Regions from separate parts of the Homo sapiens genome. Here region 1 is linked to region 2. Evidence: fine-mapped QTL for protein levels in blood plasma. Region 2 holds a variant in brackets. A gene starts in the other region. All regions are shown on their forward strands.

Region 1 (2,917 bases), not on the chromosome of region 2:
CAGAATGTCATCTTGTACCTTAAGGCCTTGGTCATCTTGTACTTTAAAGACTGAAACAAATACAGGGTGGATTTTAGTACAGGACAGGGACAGTTGACTCTGGAACACAAAGCTCAACCCAGGGAAGGCAGCCTTAGTTAGACAGGTTGGGAGTTGCAGTGGAGGAACTAAAGCAACCACCTAGGACAGGATCTTAACCTGGATCCAGCAGGCTTCTAGAAGGCCTGTGGCTGAGCTACAGAAGGCTCAAAACCCCTGGAAATTGTGTGCAAAATTTTATCTGCCTCTGTTCCTTTTCCGTGGGAATAGGGTCCAAAACGTCATTAAAATTCTTCCAGGGATCTTGGATATAAAGAAGAGTTAAGAAAAGTCAATCTGGAAGGAATCTTTAGAAAGATTTTTCTATGTTAGCTACAGAGACAAGCAGGTGGAATCTGCATTTTAAAAAAGAAAAAGCATAACCTCATCATTTTTGCTATTTTAAAGCTGCGAAGCTTAGAGTTAAGCGGGAACCATTTTTTCTTTAAAATTTCAAGTCTTTATGTATTATTGTCAAATACTTTCTAATTAAAAAATAAAAATCTTGGTTTTCTGGTTTTACATTGATAAATTATAAAATAGATATTAAATATATTCTGTGACAAAGCAGTACAACTTGTACACTGTAGATTTTGAATAAATAACGCTTTCCTTGGTAAAATATAGTGTAAACTGCTGAGGGTCCTTTAGTATCAGTTGCAAGGTTAAGCTACTTGGGGGAACACAGATAAATGTGGCATGGTTACAGGCCTACAGCAGCTTAAAATGCATTTGGGAGGCACATAACCATATGTCAGCAATTAGATTGTATAAACATTGGTCAATTAGCATTTTATGACATTAGTATTTTATTTTTCAAAAGTAATTTAACGTAAGTAACTGATATTATAAGTTCCTATATTTTAAAATAAAACAAGACTTAAAAGAATATAAAGAAGAGCTATCATTACTTGTAGAATACTTTTCAAAGAGTCGTTTTTGTGGTTGACGTCAATTTATTCTAATACCATTAATATAAATAGAGATAAAACTATGAAACCAGCAAAGGAAATCCAGTTCAGTAAAAGAAGAAAAATAAAAATTCATTTCACTTTCCTACCCTTTACTGAAAGCTTCACTTTTAAATAGCAAAAGGTGATTATTTAAATATAGCAAAGCTTGACCACTGATTAAGTAATCTGGAAAATTTGCTTGCTTACCTGACTTGGCCAGTGCTCTTGTTGGAAATGTATTCTGGATGTTTCTGGTTAAAAATGGGTGTGGATTTATAGACACACACACACACACCTGACCTACAACCTCACCTGCATAGAAACAAGAGCATAGTTACCGGAAAACAAACTTAGAAAAATAGGCTGGTCTGAAAAACTCTGTACTTCTTTCCAGTTCTCATGCTTCTCACACTAAAAAAGCTCTATTCTTTTTCTCTAAATTAAGATTGAATGTCCTCATAAAATAAGGTCAAATACCATCTTTGTGCTTCTTTCTCTTTTACCTTTTATTTCCCAAGGTAGTTTAATGTTTGGCTGAAGTTCAGCACAAAAAAAAAAAAGAAAAGGAAGAAAGAAAACGGAATGAATTTAAGAACTGTGTGCATGCCATTGTTCAAATAGAAATTCCTAAGGGTTACTCTGTTTACAGGAATATAATTAACAGCTAAAGAGATTGGGTCCTTTTTTTTTTGAGAGAGAAGGAAATAAAAATTCTGTTTTAAAGTTGAACATTTTCATAATTTGATTATTCTTTACAATTTTTCTATAAAACCTTTACTGCACAAAAAATTAGAAAAACAGGCCATTAGATAAGTTTAAATTTATCTAATAGTTAGATACTGTTGAATTAATTGAGAGTAATTATTTAATTACTGTTAAAATAACGTAAGGCAGTGTGTCATCAAATTTGGCATACCTGTTTTTTGTACAGCCCAGGAAACAGGAACGGTTTTGACATTTTTAAACGGTTGGGGAAAAAAACCCAAAAGAATCATATTTTGTGACATGTGAAAGTTATATGAAATTCAATTTCAGTGTCCTTAAGTAGAGAGAGATGTGGCGGATGGCATGCAGCCATGTGCATTTGCTTACTAGTGTCTATGGCTACTTTTGCACTGCAACAGCAAAGTCCGGTACAGTCCAGGACAGTGGATACCAAAATCTGTGCACACTCAAAGTCCCATATCTGGCCCTGCGTAACCCACAGATATGAAAAGTTGGTCCTCCGCATATGCAGGTTTGGCATCCCGTGAACACAGTATTTTTGATCCACTTTTGGTTGTGGATACAGAACTTGCCCATATGAAGGAATATATTAAAAAAAAATCCTTCTCTAAGTGAACCCACACAATTCAAATCTATGTTGTTTAAGGGTCAACTGTGCTTGTGACAGGGACTGTATGATCTGCAAAACCTAAAATATTTACTATCTTTAGTAAATGTTTACAGAAAATGTTTGTTGAACCTTAATCCAGGGTATTGTTTATAAATTCCTTCCTTCCTTCTTTCCTTCCTTTCTTCCTTTGCTTCCTTTCTTCCTCTCTCCCTCCCTCCCTTCCTCTCTTCCTCCCTTCCTCTCTTCCTCCCTTCCTCTCTTCCTCCCTTCCTCTCTTCCTCCATCCCTCCATCCCTCCATCCCTCCCTTCTCCCACCCTTTTTTTGTTTCTTTTTTTTGTGGGGAAGGGTCTAATTGCTCTGAATACATTAACAAATATACTGTGCAAGAATGGGAGTGATGATTGTCTTGCTCCTGATGTTAAAGCGGGTGTGCTTCCAGTATTTTAACTTTAGATGTAGTGCTGGATTTGGCTGAGTTGACCATGTTAAGAAGGTAACCATTATTCTTAAACTACATCTCTTAAAAGCAGGACTGTTGGATTTTGTTC
Region 2 (2,917 bases):
GACAGCAACTCCCCCGCCTCACTGAGCTGGTCTCAGGAGGGAAGAACACTGAATCTCTCCCAGCTCTCAGCAACTGGGATCCTGGAGCTGCCCCAGAAAGGGACTGGAGGTGAAGGCGACCTCACCTGTGAGGCTCAGCACCCACTGGGCTCCCAGCACATTTCCCTGAGCCTCTCTGTGCAGAGGGAGCTGCTGGACGGGTGCTGGGGCAGGCAGCCTGGTCAGGTGTTGGGCTGTGAGAGGGGCCTAGACCTAGGAACAAAACCTCACCCTCTTCTCCCCACTCCCAGGAAGTCCCTCTGGGTGCAGATGTGCGAGTGAAGATCAGGAGGGCTCCCAGCCCCTGGTTCTCACCTAATCAAGGGGCGCTCATGGGCACTGGTTTTTCCTTCACCCGTGGCCTCACCTGGGGCTACTACTCCAGGTGAGCAGGGCTGCTCTTTTCTAGGGAAGCCGAGGGATTGGCCCCCGAGTTCCAGATGGGGCTGAGCTGTCCTGTCCCGCCTGAGTTAGAATTGAAGTGGCCGATGCTAATCTGAGGCCGGTGTTGGCTCTACAGGTGTGGAGGCCCCCAGGGGAGCAGGGCTGAGAGGCCTGACTGAGCCCCTCCTGCTCAAGACAGAACTCAGATGAGGACACCCAGCCCTGCGGGACAGATGCAGGACATCACTGTCAGCCATGGCTCAGCCCTTCTGACCACTGAGATGCTGCAACTTCCCCTCCTGGGAGGGAGCGATTGGGCAAACACTTACCCTTTGCTGGAAATCTCAAGGCACAGCACGGGTGCTCACAATCTGAATACAGAACGAATGAATGAATGAATGAATGAATGAATGAAATGTCTTTCCTTATCTCATGTGAGAGACTTGACAGTTCTTTCACTCTCCAAGTAACATCAGCTTCCCCTGTCCCAGCCCAGTCTGTCCTGGGCAGACAAGATTAATTAAGTGGCTCCTGGGCAGACATTGGTGCAGGAGACAGGGCCCAGGAGACCTGTGTGATTTGGGCAATTCGCTTTCTATCTCTGTCCATTCATGCTGCTACAACAAAATACCATAAACTGGCCAGTTTATAAACAACAGAAATTCATTTCTCACAGTTCTGGAGGCTGAGAAGTCCAAGACCAAGGTGCCAGCAGGTTTGGTGTCTGGAGACAGTTTGCTTCCTCATAGATGGTGCCTTTTCCTTATGTTCTCATGTGGTGGAAGGGCTGTGCAAATTCCCCTGGGTCTCTCAGATGAGGGGACTAATCCCATTAGACTAATCCCAGAGTCCTCATAGCCTAATCGCCTCCCAAATCATTATACCTTCTAATACTATCACATGGGGATTCAAATTTCAACAAATGAATTTTGAGGTGACATATTCAGACCATAGCACTTGTCACTGTGGACCTTGATGTCTTCCTCTCCGAACTGTGGAAGTGGGAGTAGAGGGCTTGTCAGCTCCCCTGGGTCATATGTGGTTCACAAGTTCCTCCTTTCTACAGATTCT[G/T]TGGCTTCCTTAAGTCTCTCCTTCCCATTTTTTTTTCTGATTTTAATTGCAAACTGGGGACTGTGGGAAAGAGATGGGCCATGGTCTAGCCCTTCTGAGGCAGGAGGAGCATAGACCAATGGGGCAGGAGCATAGCAAAGAGAATTAAAAGTTGGATAAAGGGCAGAATAAGTAAAAGCAGAGAGCAGAAGCAAGGTGAGGGGACGGGTGAGCAAGAAGCAAGAGGCAGAAGTTGAGCAGCCAAAACAAAAAGTAAGATAGAGAAGTGAGCAAGGACACCCGTGGCCAGCAGGATCTGGACCAAACCAGTAAGGGGCAGTTCTTCAGAGCTATGCATGTGCATTAGAGAGAAAAAGTATCCTTAACATGACCCTGTATGATAATCAGCTCATTAAAGTTCATGCATATGGACTGCATATTATCCATGTACTTAAAATTATGGGATGGGTCAAAGTAACTAAGCAACATACTTAACCATCAAAAAGGCAGGCACTGGCCAGGCGCGGTGGCTCACGCCTGTAATCCCAGCACTTTGGGAGGCCAAGGTGGGCGGATCACTTGAGGTCAGGAATTCAGGACCAGCCTGGCCAACCTGGTGAAACCCCATCTCTACTAAAAATACAAAAATTAGCCAGGCATGGTGGCGGGCGCCTGTAGTCCCAGCTACCAGGGAGGCAGAGGCAGAAGAATCGCTTCAACCCAAAAGGTTGAGGTTGCAGTGAGCCAAGATTGTGCCACTGCACTCAAGCTTGGGTGACTTCGTCCCCACCTCACCACCACCCCTTCCCCCCGAAAAAAGGCAGACACTGGATAGAGATTTGGCAGCCTTGGGAAGCGAAGAAAAACAAAAAAACAAACAAACAAACATAAAAAGACCCAAAGTAATGCTGATCTCACCTCATAGAGATCAGTTCGCTCTCCCTCTCCAAGAGTGTGATACTGTGCTTAATAAACTGCTGCTTCTTGCTTTGCTGTCTGTGTGTGTCTCATCCAATTCTTTGTTTAAGACACCAAGAGCCTGGAACTGCATGGCACCATCCGGTAACACTTCTGCCCACTGAGATACTGCAAATATCCTTATGGGGAGAGAGTGGCTGGGCAAGGAGGAGGCGCCCAGGAGGCAGATTGGTCTGCAGGATGAGATACTAGCTGCAAATGCAGGGATTGGAGGTGAGGGCGGGGAGTGGCTTCGGACGCCCAAACCCAGCATCTTCCTCTCTCAATCGTTACAGCCAAATGATCTCTAGGTTATGGACAATTAGGGGACAGTGTGGGCTGAGCAGATCAATGCAGTTGTATGGAAGAAAACAGACTGGGATTTTCTATGTATACAACATCTTCAGGAAAACCTACGTGAAGTTAGAATTTTCAAGGCAGCATGTGCCGATGATAAAACTACATAGAACAGCAGGAAGACTATTAT

Which allele goes with the higher level. Alleles are on the strand shown, and positions count from the first base shown. The strength of an association depends on the size of the effect and on how common the allele is.
For the plasma level of the protein whose gene starts at base 1,278 in region 1, G is the high allele of the variant in region 2 and T is the other (weak association).

The links. PIP is the chance, under the fine-mapping model, that this variant and not a neighbour inherited with it causes the effect. Protein levels are from antibody-based Olink assays in UK Biobank. Linkage for the fine-mapping came from a reference panel and not from the study's own genotypes, which makes the PIPs less certain.
Region 1: AGR3 starts here. The variant in region 2 is fine-mapped to the plasma level of the AGR3 protein (UK Biobank, PIP above 0.99).

The regions. Positions count from the first base shown.
Region 1 is chr7:16,880,706-16,883,622 of GRCh38, forward strand. It overlaps AGR3 (anterior gradient 3, protein disulphide isomerase family member), which reads right to left and starts at 1,278. Exons shown (of 8, transcript NM_176813.5): 1 at 1,239-1,278.
Region 2 is chr19:51,138,033-51,140,949 of GRCh38, forward strand. It overlaps LOC124904749 (a long non-coding RNA gene), which reads right to left and starts at 2,478. Exons shown (of 3, transcript XR_007067310.1): 1 at 2,392-2,478; 2 at 753-794. The variant G/T (reference allele first, on the strand shown) is at 1,495.